4 linked regions of the Homo sapiens genome follow. The protein of the gene in region 3 interacts with the protein of the main gene of each other region in a pairwise test. Each region holds a gene or a part of one and is shown on either strand. Other genes may lie near its edges. The genes, in order: MTIF3, GOLM1, TMEM109 and LMNA.

Region 1 (7,209 bases), on a different chromosome or scaffold from region 3:
GGGAATAAGTGATTGAATTTTAATGAACTCTTCTTACTACTTTCTTAGGATGGCTGCTCTTTTTCTAAAGAGGTTAACACTACAAACTGTAAAGTCTGAAAATAGTTGCATTAGATGTTTTGGTAAACACATCCTGCAAAAGACAGCACCAGCACAGTTGTCCCCTATTGCTTCTGCCCCAAGACTCTCCTTCCTAATTCATGCAAAAGCCTTTAGTACCGCTGAAGACACCCAGAATGAAGGAAAAAAGACAAAAAAGAATAAAACAGCTTTTAGTAACGTTGGAAGAAAAATTAGTCAGCGAGTTATTCACTTATTTGATGAGAAGGGCAATGATTTGGGAAACATGCACCGAGCAAATGTGATTAGACTTATGGATGAGCGAGACCTGCGACTGGTTCAAAGGAACACCAGCACAGAACCTGCAGAGTATCAGCTCATGACAGGATTGCAGATCCTCCAGGAGCGGCAGAGGCTGAGGGAGATGGAGAAGGCGAACCCCAAAACTGGTAGGTATTTTGCTGTTGGCTCCCTGAATCCTTTAAGAGCTACAAATCAGCAGTTTAAATTCTAGCATTTGTCAAGGTGCCTGTGACAAGAGGGAAATGAGAAACTAGAAAATTCATGATTCAACCACCATTCCCAGTGTCTGTCTTTCCTCCTTTATCCTGCACTTACTCCTGTTCCCTTTTTTTCACTGTTTTTCCACAATACCCTGCCCATTATCTCTTCCCTTTAAACCTGTGTAAAATGTGGGAGAAACCAGGCAAACAAACCAAAGTGAAGAGAACTCTTTCCCCTGTCCTGTGGCCTTCTCCCAATGCCGCAGCAAGCTGAGTAGCCGATGGGGTGAAACAGAGTGAGATTAGGAGGGGTACATTCAAGTTCCCTGCCCTCTGCCGGGCCACTCATTTAACCTCCCTCCTTTTGTTTTTCTTCCCCTTCTTCAACTCTAAAGTGGAGGTGTTTGGTTAATTATCTGGAAGCACCTTTTTATTTTTTTGAGATGAGTCTCTGCCTGCCGCCCAGGCTGGAGTGCAGTGGTGCGATGTGTGCTCACTGCAACCTTCGCCTCCCAGGCTCAAGCGATTCTCCTGCCTTAGCCTCCCCAGTGGCTGGGATTACAGGCGCCCGCCACCACGCCCGGCTAATTTTTGTATTTTTAATAGAGAGGGGGTTTCACCATGTTGGCCAGGCTGGTCTTGAACTCCTGGCCTTAAGTGATCTGCCCTCCTCGGCCTCCCAAAGTGCTGGGATTACAGGCGTGATCCACTGCGCCTAGCCTGGAAGCACCTTTTCGACTCTGAAGTGATTCACAGAGCATCTCCCATGCCAAAGCATTGTGTTGCAATATCAGTAGCAACACTCTTAGATATACAACCAGTCACTTGACGAGGCACTTGTCATTTAAGCCTCACAGAAGTCAGGAATTGGATATTAAGCAAAGATGTTTGTTTTTCATAGTTCCTAAAAAGTGCCAATCATTATGAAAGTTCAATGGATGGCGCACGGGGACAGGCATCAGATGACTGCTCCCAGCACTGCATCGTGAGGTTGTGTGCCTTCAGAAAACCACATGTTATCTGCGGCTCAGTTTTGTAATGCCACATTTAACAAGGATGTTGACTGGAAAACAATATTCAGAAGAGACCAACCAGGGAGGATAATGACGTCAAACTATGTCACTTAAAAAAAAAAAGGTCACTGGGCGTGGTGGCTCACGTCTGTAATCCCAGCACTTTGGGAGGCCAAGGCAGGTGGATGGCTTGAGCTCAGGAATTCAATACCAGCCTGGGCAATATAGCAAAACCCCATCTCTACAAAAAATTTTAAAATTAGCAAGGTGTAGTGGTGCAAACCTGTGATCCCAGCTACTTGGGAGGCTGAGGTGGGAGGATCACTTGAGCCTAGGAGGCAAAGGCTGCAGTGAAGAACCATGATCATGCCACTGCACTTCAGCCTGGGTGACAGAGCGAGACCCTGTGTTTAAAAAAAAAAAAAAAAAAAAAAAAAACAGTCTTGCTCTGTTGCCCAGGCTGGAGTGCTGTGGTGTGATTTCGGCTCACTGCAGCCTCCATCTCCTGGGATCCAGCAATCCTCCCACCTCTGCCTCCCACACAGCTGGGACCACAGGTGCACACCACCATGCCTGGCCTTTTTTTTTTTTTTTTTTTTTTGTAGAGATGGGGTCTCGCTATGTTGCTCAGGTCTTGAACTCCTGAGCTCCAACGATCTGCCTGCTTCAGCCTCCCAAAGTGCTGGGATTATAGGCGTGAGCCAGCACACCTGGCCCCCAATCTTTATGATGAACCCTGGTGCATACTCTAGGGTCTATGAACCTAAATGGATCAAACTGCTCAGCAGCAGTGTATGCAGTTTCTCTACCTCCTCCCTCATTTGTCATTTTAATGGTGAGAAATTAATGTGTATTTCACTTTTTTCTTCTGTGAATTGCGTGTTTATATTCCTTTATTTTTCTACGTAGATGGTTTTTCTCCGATTTATAGGGTTCTCTGTTGTGTATGATGGAAAAAACCGTATCCCAGTTAGATTTTTCATTTTGCCTTTTTTTCTTAATGAGTTCCATCCCCTATCCTGAGATCACAAACCATTCTGTCTTTTCTTCTGTTTGTTTTAAAGTTGTATTTTTCACCTGTAGAACATTAGTATACCTGGGGAGACCTAACTTTTTGTCATCTATAAACTTCTCAATTGTCCCAACACCTTTATTGAGTGGCCGGTTCCTTCTCTATAATTTTCCAGTAGGCAGGATTTCTGGAGACAGAGGGCATGAACACAGGATGTAGGGACCCTTACCTGTCCAACAGTCTGGCTGACCCCTTATAGCAAGGAGAGCATCTCAAAAGGAGTGGGTAGTGCACTCCCAGATGCCAACCCACAGCTGATAGATAAGGATGTTAAGTGCACCATGAAGCCAAACTTGATCCTTTAAACGACTATCTTTTGGTGTTCTTTCAACAAACGATGGTTAACAATAAATGGAAGCATTTCAGATTTTAAGTACCCTTCCAGGGCAGGTAAAAAATTGGTACCTTTATGTGTATCTTCCCCATTTGAAAAGACATTTACTGGTCTGTGAAACTGAAAGCCAGATGAGAAGATTGTCAGGTGGCAACCTAGGATTTTATGATGGGCATGTTGGGAAGTTCAGGGTTCACAGTGGACTAGTCAGTAGTCCTTGCACCCTATCTGTTTCAAACCAGGACCAACCCTGAGAAAGGAACTGATTTTGTCTTCAAATATTGGACAACATGATTTGGACACAAAGACTAAACAGATTCAGCAGTGGATTAAGAAAAAACACCTAGTCCAGATTACCATAAAGAAAGGAAAAAATGTAGACGTGTCAGAAAATGAAATGGTAAGTAAAGAAGGTACAAGCCACTGCTTGTGCTTTGGGTCTTCTGATCTAAAAATACAATTGTAGGCCAGGCGCGGTGGCTCACGCCTGTAATCCCAGCATTTTGGGAGGCCAAGGTGGGCGGATCACGAGATCAGGAGATTGAGACCAACCTGGCTAACATGGTGAAACCCCGTCTCTACTAAAAATACAAAAAATTAGCCAGGCGTGGTGGCGGGCACCTGTAGTCCCAGCTACTGGGGAAGCTGAGGCAGGAGAATGGCGTGAACCCGGGAGGCGGAGCTTGCAGTGAGCCGAGATCGCGCCACTGCACTCCAGCCTGGGTGACAGAGCAAGACTCCGTCTCAAAAAAAAAAAAAAAAAAAAAAAATTGTAGAAAATCTGAAATATAAAGACAAAGTGACTGGTAATTCTTCCACCCAGTGATGTTAACAGCTTTCTAGTTTGCTTTTCAAAACTAAGCATACTGTAGATATAGTTTCCATTACAGCGTATTTTGCCATATGAACACATTATTCCTTAAAAGCAATATACTATTGTTTTATAAATTGTAGAATAACCCTTAAACAGGAAAATTAGAAACTTTATAGATTTTTTGTTTCTTCTTTGTACTTATAGGGGCATTAATTACGTAGACTGTCTTCTAGAAAGTGTGTAGTTTCCAATCCCATAAGTTTATGGAATACCTATTTTGCTTTTTTTTTTTAAAAGTTAGATAACTTTATCATCCACTAAGGGTATCCTTAGTAATCCAGCTCCACAGTAGAGTCACTTAAGCATAGGTCGCAACCCAGCTGATGCAGAATTTCTTGAGCCCAGGTATCCATTTGTTTCAGTCACTGAGAGAGACTCTGTTAGGGGCAATAGAGAGTGCTGAGAACTGCTCGGCTGACACCTTGGGGATGAGGAGGTATTTTGCCAATGCCCAAACCCAGTGCTTTCTGTTTGTGGGAGAGGGTAATGCTGAGCCAAACGTAGCCTCTTCGTGCCATGACGAAGTGGAGATTTAAAATTAGGAAGCATTCAGCATGTCAGTTTAGTTACATGGTGTTATTGTACAGATTTCAGTCAACTTAACCAGATACGTATGAACTGATTAGCTAATCACTTAACCGACAGCAGCAATTCAAGGGTGCCAGTTTTTGTGAATGTTCAAGCAGAACATTAGAAAGCACCAAAGCCTCTGATTTTAAATTAATCTTTGGCTGTTTCCCTTTTTTAGGAGGAGATATTTCATCAAATACTCCAGACTATGCCTGGAATAGCTACATTCTCATCTAGGCCACAAGCTGTTCAAGGAGGAAAAGCTTTAATGTGTGTTCTTCGTGCTTTCAGCAAAAATGAGGAGAAGGCATATAAAGAAACTCAAGAGACCCAGGAAAGAGACACTTTGAACAAAGACCATGGAAATGATAAGGAATCAAATGTTCTGCATCAGTAATTTTAATAAAGAAAAGCATGCTCTGAGAGAAAGCTCGCTCCTTGGTCTGCAGTCCTTTAAACAAAGCAGTGCAGTTCTTAGCCAAGGGTAAGTACTGCAACTGTCGAGAGCATCTTGTCTTCCACACAGTTGGGTGACTCTCCGTTTTGACACAAAGATAAGCCTTGCCCTTGTTTCCTTTTGGGAGGGATATATCCACTGAGATGAGAGGCCAAACTCCGTTTTTCACGAGATTTTTTGACCTTTGGGAATAAGGAAGACACACGATTAGAATTCAAAATCAAAACTGTCTGAGTTAATTTTACGATAGTCATATGTACCAGCAGATATAGTGTACAACATTGCTTTATGAGGAAGTAAAGTCTTCAACAGTAGTGCAGACTCAAACAGTAAAGCAGGTGAAAAGAATTCCAAACAGACTCCTTCTGGCCTTAAACAATTTCCACTTGAAAACTAAGCTTGCCTAAGTAGTTTCAACTTACTTTGAGCTTCATTTTCTTCTTGTCAGGATCATGTACAACAGCATGCCTAGTGAGACTTTGCTACAATGAAAGAGAAAGTTATTAATGAAATATTAATATGAAAACCATGTTGTGAAAGCATAGACTATAGGACCATGAGTATGAGGGTGAGTGCTTACTTTCATTGCAAATGTTTTGCCACAGCCAGCATGTTCACACACAAAAGGGCGGCTTTCCTCATGGAAGGAGAGGATATGGCTTTGGAGATTAAACACAGTTGTATAGGTTCTTCCACAGCCTTCTCTTGGACAGCGACATACATCCCTTTCTGGGGCATGAGTTTTCATGTGTTGCTTAAGGTAATCTTTGCGTTTAAATGTTTTCCGGCATACTTCACATAGTATTTCCTCTGGTGGGACAGACAGACAAATTTCACAAATTTCCCCAGATATTACCATTTAGAAAAAATTAATACCTAATATATAAGTAACATTCAGTGCCTGAAACCTGATCACTATATACAAATCAGAAATTCCCAAGGAAACAACCCCAGTTTTTATCACCTAGGAAGTTTGTCTCAATTCTCTGAAGTTCTTAAATGCCACACAGTCATTGTTCACTTGCCAAGAGGCAGGGCTCTCAGGAAGGTGACTGTGGGGAGGTACAGAAAATGAAGCAGACCAGTGTCCTTCCTTGTCCCCCAGTATGCAGGGTACTGTTTCCCAGGCGGTCCCACAGAACAGCAGTGCCTCCCGAAATTCTTCACTACAGACCTGCCACCGCCTTCAGCATGCTAATTGTGCATGGTGGGGTGGCTCAGAGACCTGGCACAGCTCTGCTCACCTTTCCAACAACATCATACCCAGCACTTCACAAAATATCATAGAGAAACCCTTTTACTTTAAAGCACACAGCATTTCACTCTTGAAAAGCACTAAATCAGTTCTGTGGGGACAAACATTTACACCATGCCTGCCATTCATGCCTGCCTTACCTTTATGGGTTTCTCTCACATGTTTCAGAAGTTCCGTCCATGTTTTTGCCACAAAGGAACATCCTTTTTGACATACATAGCCTATTAAAAAAATTGGTGCATTGTCTGTCATGAATACTCAGTGTAAACACTGACCATAACTAGAAAGGAAACTTAGGTGCCTATATAATTTTCCATTCCCCGCCTAATAGTATTCAACTCAGCCTCTTGAGGTGGGAATAAAAACTAAAAAAAGATTGATGTTATAGTAAAACTGAACAGTGGCACAGCAAGGTGCCTCCCTTTAAGGATTTTACCTTCCTGTGAAGCAAACTTCAGAGTTCCCATCTTCTCAGCGTGATCACGGAATAGGCAAACTTCACAGGAAGGATGCCTAAGGATGCCTTTTCCTCTCTAAGAGTTCTCAGGAAGTTGGGTAGGCTGTGTATGGACTCCCAACTGCTTTAACCTCCTATCTCCATGTCTTATTTCCCTTCCCCTGCCTGCTCTATCCTCGCCTCTATTTTCCTCAGCAAACATACTCTGCAGTCGGTCCCTTGTCCATGGCACACCACCAACTTTTCAGTAGTGTTACCATGCCCACCTCTGGCTTCCTCTAGTCTGGCCATCTTGTAAGTGTCATACTGCACAAAAAAAGTAGGGTACATTATATTTTAACTTTATCACAAAAAAAAAAAAAAAAGTTTTTTTTTGTTTTTTTTTTTTAAAAGAGTACAGCTAAGGAAGAAAATAAACTGGAAGGACCCAGAGAAAAACACTGAATAACAATGGATATGTGCAAAGCACTAAAATGGGATTAATAAGTATACAACACTAGGGCTGAGTTCCACCCAACTAGAAACTAAAAACAATGAGGCTGCCTCTCACTGTTAGCTACTAACCTCTTAAAAAAAAAAAAATCATAAATTCTAGGACCTGGGAAATTGAAATA
Region 2 (7,998 bases), on a different chromosome or scaffold from region 3:
TTTCCTTTTGATATTAATACGTCATCTAGAAGAGGATGCTTTGAACTTGTGTAGCTTTACCATCCATTGATGAACATTGCCCAAGTGGTGACATTTTACATGCTGCCATCACAGCACATTTATTACCTGACATTTTTTAAGGAACTCCTCTCCCTCCTCCAACACACTTGTTTGTTTTGGTATCACTATGGACTCATAGTATTCTTTCTTAAAATTCATTTTTCTGGGCCAAGTGTGGTGGCTCACACCTGTAATCCCAGCGCTTTGGGAGACCAAGGCAGGCAGATCAGCGGGTCAAGAGATTGAGACCATCCTGGCTAACACGGTGAAACCCCGTCTCTACTAAAAAGAGAAAAAATTAGCCAGGCGTGGTGGTGGGCGCCTGTAGTCCCAGCTACTCGGGAGGCTGAGGCAAGAGAATCGCTTGAACCCGGGAGGCAGAGGTTGCAGTGAGCTGAGATCGCACCGCTGCACTCCAGCCTGGGCAACAAGAGTGAAAATCCATCTCAACAACAACAACAAAAGAATCCAAGCCATGTGACTGTAGTTTCCCACAGCCTGAATACTGCTGATTATAGAGTCATGGGGGAGTTGAGTGAGTTCGCCTGGTCTCTGTTTTCTGTAGAGTGGCAGCTATACCCAGAGACTTGATGAGACTCAGGTCCTGGCTCAAGCCCTCGGTAAGGTGAGTGGTGGTGTGTTCTTTGGTTCTTTCATCGGGAGGCACGTCATGTCTGGCGTCTTTTTTTTTTTTTTTTTTTTTTTTTGAGATGGAGTCTCGCTCTGTCACCCTTGCTGAAGTGCAGTGGCGCGATCTTGGCTGACTGCAACCTGGCGTCTTTCTTTTTGTGATGCCAGTTGATGGTCAATGCCTGTATCAATTCATTTTTATGTTATTTGTTAATTGGAATGTTCTTAGAAATAGACACTTCAGCTGGGCGTGGTGGCTAACACCTGTAACCCAGCACTTTGGGAGGCCGAGGATGGTGGATCACCTGAGGTCAGGAGTTTGAGACCAGCCTAACTAACATGGTGAAACCCCGTCTCTACTAAATACAAGAAAATTAGCCAGGCGTGGTGGCACATGCCTGTAATCCCAGCTACTTGGGAGGCTGAGACAGGAGAATCGCGTGAACTCGGGAGGCAGAGGTTGCAGTGAGCCGAGATTGTGACATTGCACTCCAGCCTGGGCAAGAAGAGTGAAACTCCGTCTCGGGGAAAAAAAAAAAAAAAAAAAAAAAAACCTCAGTGGTATTGTTTGTATAAGGTAGATAGGATAAATGCTTGATTTCTTTCCTTTTTAACAGTTTTCATGACTATGAATTACTTCCCCATCTTCTCTGAGGGTAACTGCTTTTAAAATATCATCATAAACTTCAGAATTCAGCAGAAATCCTCAGGGCAGCAGGAGTCGTTGTAACAACTACTTCACTTCAGTTTCGGCCTTGCTGATCCTGCCGATGCCCTTTTTTTTTTTCTTCCTCAGATGGAGTCTCACTCTGTTGCCCAGGCTGGAGTGCAGTAGTGCGATCTCGGCTCACTGCAACCTCTGCCTCCCGGGTTCAAGCGATTCTCCTGCTTCAGCCTCCCGAGCAGCTGAGATTAGAGGCGCACGCCACCACGTCCAGCTAATATTTGTATTTTTATTAGAGACGGGGTTTCACCATATTGGCCAGGATGGTCTCCATCTCCTGACCTCATGATCCGCCTGCCTTGGCCTCCCAAAGTGCTGGGTGGCGTAAGCCACCACGTCTGGCTAACAATACCTTCTTTTATTACCATCTGGGCAATGCATTATTCATTTAATGTTTTAATACTTACATTTTTTTTACCTTTTCATTTTGAAATAATCTAGACTTCTTTAAAAAGCAAAAAATTTCTGTATACCCTTCACCCAGGTTCCCCAAATGTTAACATCTTATATAACCACAGTAAAATTACCAAAATAAGGAAATTAATGTTTATACAATGCTATTATCTAATCTGTAGACTTTGTTGAAATTTAGTGAGTGTCCAATTCATGTCTTTTTTTCTGGGTTCAGGATTATACACTGCATTTATTGTCAGACCTCTTTAGTGTTCTTTATCGTGGAGCAGTTTATCATTTATGTTGTTGGTCTTTTTTGAAGGGTAGTGGCTCAGTTATTTGGTTGAAAGTCCCTCAATCTGTGCTTGTCTGATTTTTCAACAATGTCCCCCTAAAAATTATCTTTTATATTTCTCCAGGATGTCAGTTGTTTCAATTGGCAGAGTTGTTTGGAATTTTTAGAATCCAAGTCCTAATTTGAATTTTCAGCTGTCTTCATTTAGGCAATTTTTTAAAAAGGCAAATGGCAAAATACACTAGCAGCCAGACTTTGAAGCAAATACAAACTCTCTGTTGTCATTGACTCCACTCATTTATGTTCTTGAGCATGTTTCACGGTCTGGTCACTGTCTTACTTCTATTCTTTTTTTTTTTTTTTTTTTTTTTTGAGACAGAGTCTCACTCTTCTTGCCCAGGCTGGAGTGCAATGGCACAATCCTGGCTCACAGCAGTCTCCGCCTCCTGGGTTTAAGTGATTCTCCTGCCTCAGCCTCCTGAGTAGCTGGGAGCTGGGATTACAGGCTCATGCCACCATGCCCAGCTAATTTTGTATTTTCAGTACAGACAGAGTTTCACCATGTCCACTAGGCTGGTCTCGAAATCCTGACCTCAGGTGATCTGCCTGCCTCAGCCTCCCAAAGTGTTGGGATTACAGGTGTGAGCCACCACCCCGGCTCTAACCACCTTTTAAATTGGGCCTAGTTTCCTACTAAATGATGGGCTTTGCGGTGAAGCCTTTTTGGATCTCTCATTCCCTACACTCAGGTGTCCTAAGGACTTGACCTTGTGCAAGGTTTTAAACAAAGTAAGTAGGTAAGGTAAAGAAAATGAGTGCCTTGTCAGCTCTTTGAAGAAGCTGAAGAAATGTCAACATCAGCTTCAACATTATTTTAAGATTGTGTCATTGAAACAGTGAGACCTTACTTGCTCCAGGGAAATTAGAAGAAAAAAGCATTAGCTCCAACTTTATTAAGAGCCTTTAACAGATACCGTTAATTTAATATGGCAGGTATTTAATGGTCATTAAACTACCATTTAATGTGCCATAGTTATAAATCAAGACCGTGGTTTTAGGTTTTATTTGTGATGTGCCTTTTTATGTTTTCTGTGTGTTAAAAGGATAGAGTAAGATCAGATGGTAGAAGCTACATACAGACATCAGCTCTGTAAAGGGAGAGCTTTGGAGTCACAAGAGCTGTCTGAAGCTGCAGACAGCTCTCAGGAGGCAGCGTGTGCCATTAGAAGTGCAGTAGCAAGGGAGTCACGCCGCACAGGAGCGTGGTGATTATATTTAAAATGTCATGAGTGCACTTGATACTGTCCATTTTCTATGGCATATGGGGCATTATGTCACTGTTACAAACAAGTATGGAATCTTTAGGTGCTTCAGCTTTGTTTCATGGCACATTGTTGGTCATCCATTTGGACACTTTGAAAGGGGAGGAGTTCCAGCTGGGCGTGGTTGCTCACGCTTGTAATCCCAGCACTTTGGGAGGCCAAGGCGGGCGGATCACGAGGTCAGGAGATCGAGATCATCCTGGCTAACAGGGTGAAAACCCGCCTCTACTAAAACTACAACAACAAAAAGAAATCAGCCGGGCGTGGTGGCGGGCGCCTGTAGTCCCAGCTACTCGGGAAGCTTAGGCGGGAGAATGGCGTGAACCCCGGAGGTGGAGCTTGCAGTGAGCTGAGATCGCACGACTGCACTCCAGCCTGGGTGATAGAGCCAGACTCCGTCTCAAAAAAAAAAAAAAAAAAAAAAAAGTTCCCTTATCCCCTTCACAGGGCATGCAATGGGGGTATGGCTTTCTTCTTCAGTGCCCCACAGCTCAAACCCCTAGGGGAAGCATGCGGACGGACAGGTTGTGGGGAGGATGGGTTTCAACCCCGCGGCAGCATCTAGGGTTGAGTGGTTACAGCTCCTGGAGCCCCACTGGGTGTGTGTTGCAGTGCGTTCTTTCAGCTTAGCTGTCCACAGGCAGCTTGTGTTAATCAGTTCAATTAGACCCTCTGCCTTATCGCAAGGACAGAGGGCTTTCTGTATCCCAGGTTCTTGCCCTAGTGTACTGAAAAAATCAGATCATGTGGGCTTGGAGAATGAATGCAAGATTTATTGAGTGGTGGAAGTAGCTCTCAGCAGATGGCTGGGGAGCCAGAAGGGGGATAGCATGGGAAGGTAGTCTTCCTCTGGAGTCTGGCTGCTCAGCAGCCGGGATCTCCTACTGTCCTTGGCCGAATTTCCCTTGGCGTCCGAATCGTTCCACCATCAATGGCCTGCCAGCGTCTTTCGATGTGTTCTTCTGCCAGTGTGTTCCTCTTGACGTCCAGCCGCTTGTGTGTGTGCCCGCTGGGGTCTCAGGGTTTTTATAGGCACAGAATGGGTGGCATGGCAGGCCAGAGTGGTCTTGGAAAATGCAACATTTGGGCAAGAAGACAGGAGTCCTTGTTCTCATTAGGTCCATGGGCACAAGCCTGAGGGTGGAGCCCTTGCCAGTGACCCTGCCCTTCTCTACCCAGCACTTCCCTGTCCCCCTCCCATATCACCGTTGCCATCTTGTCCTTGATGAGGAATACAACTCCCAATTACAGTGTTGCTGTGGGAGATGCAGTCCTCTTTATGACAGTTTCTAGAAGTTGATAAGAAAATGGGACCTGCCTAGGGCTAGTATCTCATTTAATACTCTATAGAATATTATGTGTTTTTCCTTTTTAGTTTTTAATGTTGAAGATCAGAAAAGAGACACCATAAATTTACTTGATCAGCGTGAAAAGCGGAATCATACACTCTGAATTGAACTGGAATCACATATTTCACAACAGGGCCGAAGAGATGACTATAAAATGTTCATGAGGGACTGAATACTGAAAACTGTGAAATGTACTAAATAAAATGTACATCTGAAGATGATTATTGTGAAATTTTAGTATGCACTTTGTGTAGGAAAAAATGGAATGGTCTTTTAAACAGCTTTTGGGGGGTACTTTGGAAGTGTCTAATAAGGTGTCACAATTTTTGGTAGTAGGTATTTCGTGAGAAGTTCAACACCAAAACTGGAACATAGTTCTCCTTCAAGTGTTGGCGACAGCGGGGCTTCCTGATTCTGGAATATAACTTTGTGTAAATTAACAGCCACCTATAGAAGAGTCCATCTGCTGTGAAGGAGAGACAGAGAACTCTGGGTTCCGTCGTCCTGTCCACGTGCTGTACCAAGTGCTGGTGCCAGCCTGTTACCTGTTCTCACTGAAAAGTCTGGCTAATGCTCTTGTGTAGTCACTTCTGATTCTGACAATCAATCAATCAATGGCCTAGAGCACTGACTGTTAACACAAACGTCACTAGCAAAGTAGCAACAGCTTTAAGTCTAAATACAAAGCTGTTCTGTGTGAGAATTTTTTAAAAGGCTACTTGTATAATAACCCTTGTCATTTTTAATGTACAAAACGCTATTAAGTGGCTTAGAATTTGAACATTTGTGGTCTTTATTTACTTTGCTTCGTGTGTGGGCAAAGCAACATCTTCCCTAAATATATATTACCAAGAAAAGCAAGAAGCAGATTAGGTTTTTGACAAAACAAACAGGCCAAAAGGGGGCTGACCTGGAGCAGAGCATGGTGAGAGGCAAGGCATGAGAGGGCAAGTTTGTTGTGGACAGATCTGTGCCTACTTTATTACTGGAGTAAAAGAAAACAAAGTTCATTGATGTCGAAGGATATATACAGTGTTAGAAATTAGGACTGTTTAGAAAAACAGGAATACAATGGTTGTTTTTATCATAGTGTACACATTTAGCTTGTGGTAAATGACTCACAAAACTGATTTTAAAATCAAGTTAATGTGAATTTTGAAAATTACTACTTAATCCTAATTCACAATAACAATGGCATTAAGGTTTGACTTGAGTTGGTTCTTAGTATTATTTATGGTAAATAGGCTCTTACCACTTGCAAATAACTGGCCACATCATTAATGACTGACTTCCCAGTAAGGCTCTCTAAGGGGTAAGTAGGAGGATCCACAGGATTTGAGATGCTAAGGCCCCAGAGATCGTTTGATCCAACCCTCTTATTTTCAGAGGGGAAAATGGGGCCTAGAAGTTACAGAGCATCTAGCTGGTGCGCTGGCACCCCTGGCCTCACACAGACTCCCGAGTAGCTGGGACTACAGGCACACAGTCACTGAAGCAGGCCCTGTTTGCAATTCACGTTGCCACCTCCAACTTAAACATTCTTCATATGTGATGTCCTTAGTCACTAAGGTTAAACTTTCCCACCCAGAAAAGGCAACTTAGATAAAATCTTAGAGTACTTTCATACTCTTCTAAGTCCTCTTCCAGCCTCACTTTGAGTCCTCCTTGGGGTTGATAGGAATTTTCTCTTGCTTTCTCAATAAAGTCTCTATTCATCTCATGTTTAATTTGTACGCATAGAATTGCTGAGAAATAAAATGTTCTGTTCAACTTATAAAACTTGTCACAGCTCTGTTTTTTTGCTTTTCCCCTTCATCCTCTATTAGATCCTTAAAGAATCCACCCTCAAACTGTGGACTAAGGATGGCAGTTTGCCTTAAACCTTCTGTGGAATGAGATGGGCTGTCAGGACGTCTTCAACCCACAGTACCCCGAAAGCTTTGTGCTCACCACGTGTGCACTCTGCATGCTTTCTCCAGGCTGCCCTAGGGATCACGACAGATTCAGCCAACAATGGAGAGGGCTGTGGGCTGTTCCAACAAAATAGAACAGTCACCTCTGGTGACACGCATCTGTAGTCCTAGCCTCCCAAGTAGCTGGGACTACAGATGCATGTCACCATGCCCGGCTAATTTTTTGTATTTTTAGTAGAAATGGGGTTTCACTTTGTTAGCCAGGATGGTCTCAATCTCCTGATTTCGTGATCAGTGTAAAGACTCAGAGAGCTGTTGCATAATAACTTCATGTGAGTCTCCAAAATTTGATACTAAAGGCTTGGTGGTCTCAGGGGGCCAATGTGGCTGCAGCCTGAGGGGCCAAATGGAGAGGGCAGAAACGAAGTAGGAGAGGCAGAAGGGGTCAAACTGGCATTCTGGGTAAAGACTAGGTCATTCATTAGAGAACAGTGGATTTTAAGTAGAGTTGTCAAGTGACCATGCTTGCATTTTATGATCTTTTAAGATCATACCAGCCACTCCACAAATAGAGTGGGGCAAGTATGAATATGGGGAAGTCAGTTCTTCAAGCCCAGTTGAGTCGCTCTTTCCTCACTGCATGGTCTACACCTCAACTGACTTTCCAGCTTCTGCCCCACCCCTTCAAGAAAGAGCTCGCCCCAGTCGCCAGCAATCTTTACTTGCCAAGTTCAATGGGCTCTTTTCAGTCCTTCTCTTAATGGCCTCTGAGCGGCATATGGCCCTCATTCTGCTTATTTTCCTGATAAGTCTCCTTTGCAGGCTTTTTCCAGTGCCCAGAGCATAGCCAAAGAGGAACAAGGAAAACACCCACCTCTCCTGAACTTTTCCAAACAGGGTGCACTTTATTTAAGGCAGTATACTGTCTTAGAGTCTTGTGCAAACAAAACGGTGAAACAGGCACACTTGTCAAAGAGTGGCCTCGTATGATTTTGAGGTATTCTTCCCTGCAGCCTGTCCCACCACCTCAGTGGCCTCCCCATTCCCTGGCCCTCCCAAGTCTATTCCTTGGGACCTATCTCAGTCCCTTACTCTAGGAGCTCCCTGAGCAATGGCAACCCCCAGAAAATTACAGTGACTATAGTTACTGAGTCCTCAGTTCATCTCCACCCCAGATGGCACCTCCCAGTTTGAGACCAAACTACCTGCCATCTTCACCAGGATGTCCCAAAGATATCTCAATGTCTAAAGCAATCTTTATCCCAAACCTGGTCTCCTACCTTGCCTAGATATCTACACAAGTGGCACCACC
Region 3 (6,989 bases):
GCTATGCAACCGGGGGCGTCGTTTCCAGGCAACCCGGGAGGCGCACGTTTCCGGGGAGAAGAGGGTTGCGGCGAGGTTCCGAGGTCCGGCAGAGGTGGAGCGGCTCCCGGGCGTGGGGACCAGGCCAGCGCCAAGCCCGAGCCCCCGAACCCCGACCCACGGCCCAGCCTCCTGCAGCCTCGGCTCGAGCCCTTCGGGGGGCCCCAAACTCATGGGTCGCGCCACGTTCCTTGCCAGCGACGCTACCCCTCAGCGCTTGGCAGGGGACGCGCCGTTCGAAATAGCACATGCCACTGACACCCTGTCTCCGGGAGGCTGCGCCCCGGTTAGGGCGCGGAGCGGCAGGGAAGCTGCCCCTTTGCCGTCGCCCTGCCCCCAAACAGTTGCTGGGCAGCAGCTGTCAGGGGTTTAGTGGGAGCTGCCCCCAACCTGCCAGGGCGCTGACTTCATTCTCTGCAGTGGCGGCTTCGCCTTGTTTAGGACCTTCCTTTAGACTCAGCTGTGCTTCTCGTGTGGCTGCTGTATATTTGGATCTACTATTAAAATAACCTCCCTCCTCACCTCTCCATGGCTTTCTCGTTCGACCCTCACGGTTTCTTGGCAGGTTGCTAATATTCATTTAATAAACATTTATTAGTCATCTTTCCTACTAGGCGCTGGGGATTCCAACATGTCAAGTCTAACCGGGAGTCGCTCGGTCTACTGGGGAAGGCAGGTTGATAAACTGCTAAATTATGCTACGATATATAGTCAGTGGTAATGTGTGTGCTGCAACATTTCTATAGATGTTTAGTTTACAAAGCGCTTGCTGCAGAAATATCTTAACTCCTTACAGCAACTCTTCACCTGGGTTCACTCCCTTTTACGTTTGAGGAGACTGCAACTCAGGCAGGTTAAGTAACAGGCGTAAGGTAGTAGCTTCTAGTCCGTGGCACACTTGAGCCTGGGACGGAAGTCAGGGGTCCTTTGTACACTGCTGCACTTTTGAAGCTTTGCTTAGACTTTTCCCTGAGCTGCTGGCTATGCATCCGAAATTCCTGAGGAGCTTTGCAAAACAAAGGGCTGAGTCCCTCTCTGGAAGAGTCTGAGTGAGTAGCCCTGGGTGGGGCAGACGTCCTTGTTTAACAGGCTGCACAGGCAGTTCCGATGGGCAGCCAAAGTTGAGAACCGCCGCTCCTTAGGGGCAGCTATGAGCAGCGGCGGGACAGTCAGAGCCGGTAGAGGGCACTTTTTGCCGCCCCTCCTGCCACCTGGTGATTCATAGCATGAAATGAAACTAACAAAAGGAAAGAGAAGAGGAGGAAGGAGCCTTGATTGGGAGGGGGGGGCGCGAAATGCCCCATCCTACCCTTGTAGCAAACCACAGCTAAACATAAGCAGTGGCGCCTTCTCACTAACACAATAAGTAAAGCTGTTTCCCCAGCCAGGCTGGGCTCTCCAGACCCACCTGAGCCATATTGCAGCTGCCGAACAGAAGTGGCAGGTTTTGTCTCCCACCTTTTGCTGTCCTCTCATACCTCTTGGTACAAAACCATGGCCTGTAAGCCCAGAAGGCAGATGGTCTCCTGGTATGTGTTCCCTCGGAGGAGTCTGGATGTCCTTCCACTTTGAGCTTGTTGGTGAACTTCAGCTCCATGAGGGCAGGGACTATGTCCACTATCAAGGCAGCATGCGGGTATGGGACAAGCAAAAAGGCAAGATTGAGATCCTGGGTACTGGAGTCAAGTCCCAGCTCTGCTGTGTGATCTTGGATAAGTCACTCAACCTCTCTAAGCCATACTTTTCTGAGTAAGATGAAGAGGGTAATAATACCTTAAAAGATTGTTGTTAGAGTTAAATGAAGTGATGAAACAATAAGCACTCTGTGAATTATAAAGCACCACACAAAAATTATTATAACATATGTATATGTATAGATATGTATAACATTTGTATTATTATGAGTTGTTAATTGAGTGCCTATTATTTGTCTGAGGCCAGGCATTGCAGAAGGTGAAGAAGTTTTAAGACATGCTTCCTCCTCTCAGAGGCTGAGACTGTTTCCATGCCTTTAGTAAAACTATTTGATTAGGCCAAAGTGAGGAGGCCTAATAGCAGTGAGTCCATACTGCCTGAGATTCACCTGGAAAAAAATGAGAAGGAATCCTATTAAAGAAAACAATTTGAAAAAGCAGACCAGCCAGCCAATCTCTGCACTCATTATCTCCAAAGGATACACTACACAATCCTGTTAGGTTTGGTATCTGGTGCACTTCAGAACATCAGTCTGCATAACGATGCCAGCCTCACTGCAGAGGGCTTATTTCAAGGTCTCCTAGCTCCCCTTAACTGGGGCAGACAGCCACTGGAGAGTTGGGGCTGGCACAGAACAAGGCAGGCTGCTGTGGGAGGAGCAGCTTATGGCACCCTGACCTCCTAGGGCTGAGGAAACGATATTTGATCCCTCCTGGTGGAGGTCCTTGGATAAAGGATCCAACCCAAGATAGCAACCCTGCTCTTTTAAGTCCCCAACATGGTTATGACCCAGATAGCTCAGGAACTCACCTGTGCTTTCCTCATCTGCGACCACTGGCAGGCAGGAACCATCTGGTTCTTGATTTGTGCCAAAGACAGTAGAAGGCTTTCCCAGCCTGAGGGCCTTCTACATGAATTGCATGTTTTTCAGCCTTGCTTGACCCTCCAGGCTTCTGGAAGGGCTTAGAGCAGCTGTTTCTGGACCAAAAAGTACCCTAAATGTAGTATTTTTAGAACCCTTTCCTAGACTCTCCTCCTTCCCCCTAAGCAAGACTAGGACATCATTCTCTTCCTTCTCCATCCCTCATGGCTCTGGATTTATTGTCAACTCCCTGAGTGCCTGTGTAACTGCAAAAAGTTCAAAAACCTGACTGCTCCTACCTCAGGGGCATGGCTTAGCCTCTGATCATCAGGTCTGAATCATGAAAACTCCTGGAGCTACAGGTTCATTTCTGAACCTGGAGGGGAACAGGGAATTTGCTGGCGCTGTCTGACATTTCTCAAGCACAGTGGCAAGTAGAAGTTGAACTTGTGTACTTTTTCTTGGCTGATCCTTACCTGCTTCAATGAGTTGGCACTTGTTGGGTCTTAACTTGTCTGTGGCATTGTGTTACAAGACCAGAGCACAAAGCACAAAGTTGTTAGGTAATTTTCACCAGTAATTCACTGAGATGATTGGTAGATGCCAAGTTTATTTTAACTCATGAATAATCTGTTGTGTGACTTTTTTTTTTAAGCGTCTTGCTCTCTTGCCCAGGATGGGATACAGTGGCATGATCATAGCTCACTGCAGCCGTGACCTCCTGGGCTCAAGTGATCCTCCCCCCTCAGCCTCCCAAATAGCTGGGAGTACAGGCACGCACCACCACACCTGACTAATTTATTTATTTATATTTATTTTGTAGAGACAGGGTCTCCTATGTTGCCCAGGCTGCTCCCAAACTCCTGGGCTCAAGCAATCCTCCCACCTCAGCCTCCCAAAGTGTTGGGATTACAGGAATGAGCCACTGTGCCTGGCCTGTATGACTTTCTAAATCACTTCTGAGACTTAGTTGGAGACAATACAGCAGAGTTGTTGTGTATGAGGGGTCCAATGTCAGAAGTACCTACATTCAAATGCTGATTTCCCCAGTTAATACTTAACCTGCCTCAATTACTTCAGTAAAATGGGGGATAATAGCAACACCTACCCGATGGGCTGTTGTGACAGTTAAATGAGCGCGGTGGTGCATGGCAAGACCTAGCTGAATGTTAGCTTTTTATTAATAGTATTTCTTTAAAGGTTGTTCATTATACCCTTGCTCACTGTCCTCGTCCATTTTCTGCTTCCTATAACAGAATGCCACTGCCTGCGTAGTTTATAATGAACAGAAATTCATTAGGGTCACAGTTCCAGAGGCTGGGAAGTCTAAGGGCATGGCGCTGGCATCTGGCAAGGGTCATCCTATGGCAGAAGGCAGAACCCAGCACATGAGACAGAGACAGGAAATCAGGCCAAAGTCATCCTTTTTATCAGGAGCTGCATTCCTGGGATAACTAATCCACTCCCAAGATAACGGCATTAATCCATTCATGAGGGCTGAACCCTCATAACCTAATCACCTCTTAAAGGTCCCACCTTTTAATACCATCATCATGGCAATTAAATTTCTTTCTTTTTTTTTTTTTTTTGGTGGAGAAGGGGTCAAACTATTTTACTGAGGGGAATGGGGTGTCAAAGAAGTACTTAGGACCATGAGATCCAACATCCTTGGCTGGACTGGGAGCTCCCAGGCTCTGCAGGAGGTGCAAGAACAGTTAAATTTCAACATGAGTTTTGCTCTTCAAACCATAGCACCTCCATTGGGGGTGGGGAGGTGAGGTCACTCTGTATCAGTGGTTCTCAACTTCATGCAGTGGAACTGCCTAGGGAGCTTTTGCAGATCCAAGGCTAGGCCACACCCAGACAATGATATCAGAACCTCTGGGCTGGGGACACAGACATCAGTACTTGGGAAGCTTCCAGGTGATTCCAGTGAGCAGCCATGGTTGAGACCCACAGTATAACTTGACTCCTAATGAAGATGGGTGGAAGCAGAAGCTTGGGTTCAAATCCTGGCCTTTCTGTGTAGCCCAGTGACCATGGGAAAATGCTTAACTTCTGAGTCACAGTTTCTTCTCGTCTGTACCAGTAGGGGCGAGGAGGATAAAAGCCACCTCACATGATGGTCCTGCAGAGAAGATGACATATGTGCAGTTATTCTTGTTTGAGCACATAACTGAGCACTTTTCTTTATACCATTATATGGCAGTAATCCTACTTGTGTGCTATTTTTAAGTTGTTTTTTATACCAGCTGTATCTTAAGTAGATTATAAGCTCCTTGGGACAGAGCCTTTATAGAGTCTTATAATACTTTTATGCCTATAGCACCTAAGATACAGGGACAGGCCTTCAGATTTTTAGAACTGGCACAAACCTTAGAGAGATCTTCTCGCCAACTCTAAAGTGTTGAATAATACTTGCTGGTTAATTAATATGCAAGTGGTAAAGAATGTGAAAGAGGAACCTGTGAGTCAGATGGTTGTGCCCAGCTTCAGTTGGAAGTCCCAGTCCTTCCTCTCCCAGCTAACAGCACTTTCTTTCCAGGGTTAGTTTGGTGCTTGCTTGGGGTAGGGGTGGAGAAGGATGTTGGGATAATCAGAGCTGAGAGGGTGAGTGTGTCTACCATGGCACTCAGCTCACTGTGCTTCTCTCCTGGCAGACCCAGTCATGGCAGCCTCCAGCATCAGTTCACCATGGGGAAAGCATGTGTTCAAAGCCATTCTGATGGTCCTAGTGGCCCTTATCCTCCTCCACTCAGCATTGGCCCAGTCCCGTCGAGACTTTGCACCACCAGGCCAACAGAAGAGAGAAGCCCCAGTTGATGTCTTGACCCAGATAGGTCGATCTGTGCGAGGGACACTGGATGCCTGGATTGGGCCAGAGACCATGCACCTGGTGTCAGAGGTAAGGAAGGTAGTCCCTGTGTGACTACACACATTAAGGAAAAATAAAAGAAGAAAGGTTGGTAATGGCCACCTCATCTTAGTTCCACATCCTCTCTGGTGCAGAGAGCCCCAAATTCCACAAAAAGAAGCCACACAGCACTTGTCTTTGAATTCCTCGTTATTTGATTGCTGTCCTAGGGCCTTTTAGCTCCACCCCTATCCTTTCCTGGCTCCTGCCCTTTCCTTGCCAGAAAGGCTGGGAAATGAGCCATCTTTATAAGCCCATGTTACTGGGTGACTGTAGAGTCTCACTTTGGTCTAAATCTGACCTAGAATCTCGAAATGGCAAAATATCAAGTCCTGAATCCATTCCTTCACCTGCAGAAGTGGGTTGAGCTTATTGGGAGCCTAAGGCAGGGTTATCTTTTTTTACCTGGTGGCATCCCAAGCATGGTATCACATACTTTTGATAGGCTGGACTGAAGGGCTGAGACAATCATTTATTAAATCCATAATATAGTATAGCTGATAGACTCCTTTTTCACTGGAACATCCTATCCCTTTACAGATGTTCTCCACGCACCTTCATGACTCCCTGGACAGCTAGCAGGCCTCCAGTTTTATAGGGTGACTACTAAAAGTATTTGATTGTCTCCGTCATTCACACACAAGTACACCTACTACTCCCTCCAAAGTATCCCAGCAAAGCAGTTAAATTATGTCCCAGATGCCCTAGTTTCCAGTTCAGGAAGGAGAGACAGCCTGTTGGCCATCCCTGTAGACTAGAAGGTGGATGTGGAAGGGACCCCTCAGCCAGGCCCAAGGCCCCTACCCTCTGACCCAGGCCTGTCACCACTGGGTGAGAAACAGGTCTGAGACATTCCTGCAGTTCTTGCCTGGACAGTGGTGATCAGGCGTGAAGGCGAGGACCGTTGTTCATTATGAACTCATCTCGCTCCGTGCTCTTTCCACAGTCTTCGTCCCAAGTGTTGTGGGCCATCTCATCAGCCATTTCTGTGGCCTTCTTTGCTCTGTCTGGGATCGCCGCACAGCTGCTGAATGCCTTGGGACTAGCTGGTGAGTGTTCGAGTGCTGGGTAGTCAGCCAGAGCTTTGCCTGTACTTTCCTACTTGTGGGAGTTCATCTTTGTCAGGGTCTAGCCTTTTCCCCAAGCTGCTTAACCCTTCCCAGGATTCTGCAGAGACATGGCCAAAGAGCAAGCCAAGAACTACCATGGCCAGGTGTGGTGGCTCCCGCCTGTAATCCCAGCACTTTGGGAGGTCAAGGCAGGAGGGTCACTTGAGGCCAGAAGTTTGAGACCAGCCTGGGCAATATAATGAGACCTCGTCTCTATAAAAAATTAGCCAAGCATGGTGGCGTGTGTCTGTTGTCCCAGCTACTTGGGAGCTGAGGTGGGAGGATCGCTTGAGCCCAGGAGGTAGAGGTTGCAGTGAGCCGGGATCACGTCACTGCACTCCAGCCTCGGCGATGGAGCAAAACCCTGTCC
Region 4 (3,500 bases), on a different chromosome or scaffold from region 3:
ATAGGAGGCCCTTGTATACCGGAGGGCCAAACTGGGAGGGATCTAGGGTCAGGTACAGTTCATTGCAAAGTTAAGTAGAAATGGCTTGTGGATTATTTTATTTTATGTATTTATTTATGTAGAGACAGGGTTTCCCTCTGTCACCCAGGCTGAAGTGCAGTGGTGCAATCACAGCTCACTGTATCCTCGACCTCTCAGGTTCAAGCCATCCTCCTGCCTCAGCCTCCCAAGTAGCTGGGACTATAGGTGCACACCACCATGCCCAGCTAATTTCTTTAAATTTTTATTTTCTAGAGATGGGGTCTGTGTTGCCCAGGCTGGTCTCAAACTCCTGGACTCAAGCAATCCTGCCTCCTTGGCCTCCCAAAATGCTGGGATTACAGGCATGAGCCACCACACATGGCCTGGATTATTTTTATTATTATTATTATTATTTTTTTGAGACGGAGTCTCACTCTGTTGCCCAGGCTGGAGTGCAGTGGCATGATCTCAGCTCACTGCAAGCTCTGCCTCGCAGGCTCACGCCATTCTCCTGCCTCAGCCTCCCGAGTAGTTGGGACTACAGGCGCCCGCCACCATGCCAGGCTAATTTTTTGTATTTTTAGTAGAGACGGGGTTTCACCATGTTAGTCAGGATGATCTCGATCTCCTGACCTCGTGATCGGCCCACCTCGGCCTCCTAAAGTGCTGGGATTACAGGCGTGAACCACCATGCCCGGCCTCCTGGATTATTTTAAATTCACTGTGGTAGATCCCATTGGCAGCCAAATTAGGATAAGATGTGACCTCAGTGGGTAAAATGACTCTAGGACAGGTGAATGGCTCTGAAATCAGGTGACAGGTCAGACCAGGCACCACATGGGGGAGGGCCTAGGTAGAAGAGTGAGTGTACATGTGTTAGGTGGGGCCATGGGTGGGCCCTGCAGGGTGGCCTCACCTTGGCCACCTGGCCCCGCAGATCATGCAGCTCGCCCTCCAGCGTGCGCTTCTCACTGAGAGCAGTGCTCAGTGCGGCCTCCTTGGAGTTCAGCAGAGCCTCCAGGTCCTTCAGCCGAGCCTGAGCAGCTATCAGGTCACCCTCCTTCTTGGTATTGCTAAAGAAGAGAGGGGAGAGTAGATTTAAGAGAAGGAGTCTGTGTGCCTAGACAGTGCCAGGCTCCCAGGAGGTCAGCCATGGGGGCTGGCGCTGCTATGCCTGCAATTACCAGGAGAGGGCATCCTTGCATTAGGTTGGTTTGCATCTGCTTGCCTCTGGGGCTGGGCTCCCACCTCCCCAAGGTCCTTGAAAACCCCCTTCCTGCTTCTCCACCCTTCCCATGACTCAGGGCTCAGGAACGTGCCTGGGGCCAAGGGCAGAGCTCTACCCCGTGATATGAATGCTTTTCCCTCTCTCTCCTCCCATTCTTTCCCAAAGAGACAGGGGTACCTTTGTCTCCTGCCCCTTCCCACACAGGGCCTTACTTAGCCTTCTCCCTGGACTCTACTCACTTCCCTTTGGCCAAGCTTCCCTCCCTCTGAGGAGCCTGACAACTAAGCTCATGGCCCACATGTCCCTAGCACTTCTCGATCTGAGCCCCAAAGGTACTGGTCACCTCTCCTAGTCCCTTTTACACATGTGGGACTGTGGGGAAGGAAAGTCTGGTTAGAGCTCAGAGGGACCTCAGACAAGGATGACCAGGCACAATATTGACCCTTTCCTTTCTCAGGACCCAGTCTGGGTGCCCTGATCTGCACTGAACAGAGGGGTCCCTGCCTCCCTCCCTCCTGCCTCATCCGTGCCCTGGGAGAAGGCTGAGCCCTACCCATCTACCATAGCCTCAGCATCTGGTTCCAGATGTGGATCCCAGGCCTCCAGGTCCATCTGGGCCCCAGCTTTAAGCCTCCCTGCTCCTCAAAGTGGGTAAAGCTTTAGCTATAACCAGTCGAACAGCGCTGCCTCTGCCACCTCCCTCACCTTTTCTGGGCCCCTGATTATTTTTGCTAGTGGACTGGAGAAATAGAAAGGTCCTATTTTCTTAAAAACCTCCAGAGAACCCAAGAACTTTCTAGATGTTACAATTGCTTCACAAATATAGGGTGAGAGAAAGCAGCAGACCCAGGGAGCGGAGGGAAAGATCCAGAGGACCTGGTTCCAGCTGCCATCTGTAACTCATCAGTGCTTAAGCATGAGCCCACCACAGCAGATGGAAAAAAGGAAAACCAAGCGTGGGCAGAAGGAAAAATCTATCCTGGAAAGGAGAAAAGCAGCCCTGCCAACATTTTTCTTCTACCACAAAAGTCCTAAACTCCAAGAGGCCCAGCAATTCACTGTGAAGAGGGATAGGGAAGGCTAGATTTGCAGAAGCTCTGGAGGACGAGACCCAGGCAGTGTTCTGCTTAGGAGAGTCCAAAAAAGGAGTCACCCCCACCTCCCCCCACCAGGCAGGGAGGAGGATAGAGTGACACTCAGAGGGGCAGGGGAAGGACATGAGAAGCCAGAGGAAGCTCCCCCAGCCTGCACACTTGCTCAGTCCAGGCCTCTGGCCACACCTCAGAACAAGTTGTTTAATGTAAGTGTCTGTCTCCTGCAAAAAAGAGCCCCTTCCAGAACCGGAGAATGTATTCCCTCCTCTGTCTCAGTCAGAAAAGCTAAAAATAAAGTCAAAACCCAGCTCAGGTTTTGGCTGCCATCCGGCCTAGCCCCTGGCTGGGAGCACAGCCCCAACTTTCCATGACTTCAGAACTTTTCCGAAGCTGAAGCAGCTGCAGGGGGAGGAGGGAAAATGAAGAAAAACCGCTGGTAAAGTGAAGCAACTGGGGCAACTTAGATTCCGAGCTCCTTGGGCTGACCCCCAGGCTGGCTGGGGCTTCCCAGAAGAGGCCTCTCTACCCTGAAGGCTAATGGCTGCTGCTGGCTGTACTAGGAGGCTCTCAGAATTTAGAGAACTAGAAGGAGCTTAGAGTTGATTCAGCTCAACCCTCTCCCTTTTATAGATGAGGAAACTGAGGTGCAAAGGAGGAAGGTGAATGGCCCAGTGTCAATTACCGAAAGCCAGCAGCAGCATTCCAGTCAATTCTAGCTGCTGATCTAGGGTTCCTCCTCCTCCACCTCACTGCTTTCCTAAGCCACAAGTTCCAGAGAGAATGGAGAAGCCAGGAGGAGGAAGAGGGCAGACACTATGGCACAAAGCGTTTCCCTGACCAGCCAGCCTGAGCTGAAAGAAGCTGGAAGGCAATGGGATGATTTCAGAAGGTGTCTCAAGGGCACCTTTTCCCTAGTCCTGTCTCCCCAGCCTCCTTAGGTGCCAGGAGGAATTCCTGGAGTTCCCCCTGGTAACAGCCTTTCCTTGCCAGTGCCTGGCAGACACTGACTGAGGAAAACATAGATGCATGATCCCTGTGCTCTGCGAGCTTATGGGCTGATGAGCACAGAAGTTTTTTCTTCAGTCTAACCTCTTCACCTTCTGCTGCTTGCAAAAGCGGTGGTGGCAGTGATAATAATAATATAATAGCAAACACTT

What was found.
Region 1: the proteins of TMEM109 (region 3) and MTIF3 interact in binary tests that used the Homo sapiens proteins (3 or more experiments, as listed by UniProt).
Region 2: the proteins of TMEM109 (region 3) and GOLM1 interact in binary tests that used the Homo sapiens proteins (3 or more experiments, as listed by UniProt).
Region 4: the proteins of TMEM109 (region 3) and LMNA interact in a two-hybrid assay, tested with the Homo sapiens proteins (one large-scale study listed by BioGRID).

What each region holds. Positions count from the first base shown.
Region 1 is NC_000013.11:27,433,289-27,440,497, reverse strand, and holds the end of MTIF3 (translation initiation factor IF-3, mitochondrial), read left to right. Parts: intron 1-48; 5' UTR 49-49; coding exon 50-509; intron 510-3,224; coding exon 3,225-3,382; intron 3,383-4,604; coding exon 4,605-4,823; 3' UTR 4,824-4,855; downstream 4,856-7,209. Other genes in the region: GTF3A (transcription factor IIIA), read right to left, coding at 4,901-5,065, 5,306-5,365, 5,464-5,693, 6,279-6,359. UniProt on the Homo sapiens protein: IF-3 binds to the 28S ribosomal subunit and shifts the equilibrium between 55S ribosomes and their 39S and 28S subunits in favor of the free subunits, thus enhancing the availability of 28S subunits on which protein synthesis initiation begins.
Region 2 is NC_000009.12:86,024,695-86,032,692, reverse strand, and holds the end of GOLM1 (Golgi membrane protein 1), read left to right. Parts: intron 1-4,799; coding exon 4,800-4,876; 3' UTR 4,877-6,547; downstream 6,548-7,998.
Region 3 is NC_000011.10:60,914,430-60,921,418, forward strand, and holds part of TMEM109 (voltage-gated monoatomic cation channel TMEM109 precursor), read left to right. Parts: intron 1-3,186; exon of another isoform or gene 3,187-4,724; intron 4,725-5,256; 5' UTR 5,257-5,264; coding exon 5,265-5,501; intron 5,502-6,456; coding exon 6,457-6,559; intron 6,560-6,989. UniProt on the Homo sapiens protein: Functions as a voltage-gated monoatomic cation channel permeable to both potassium and calcium. Plays a role in the cellular response to DNA damage.
Region 4 is NC_000001.11:156,128,211-156,131,710, reverse strand, and holds part of LMNA (lamin), read right to left. Parts: intron 1,885-3,500; exon of another isoform or gene 1,862-1,884; coding exon of another isoform or gene 1,803-1,861; intron 1,095-1,802; coding exon 938-1,094; intron 1-937.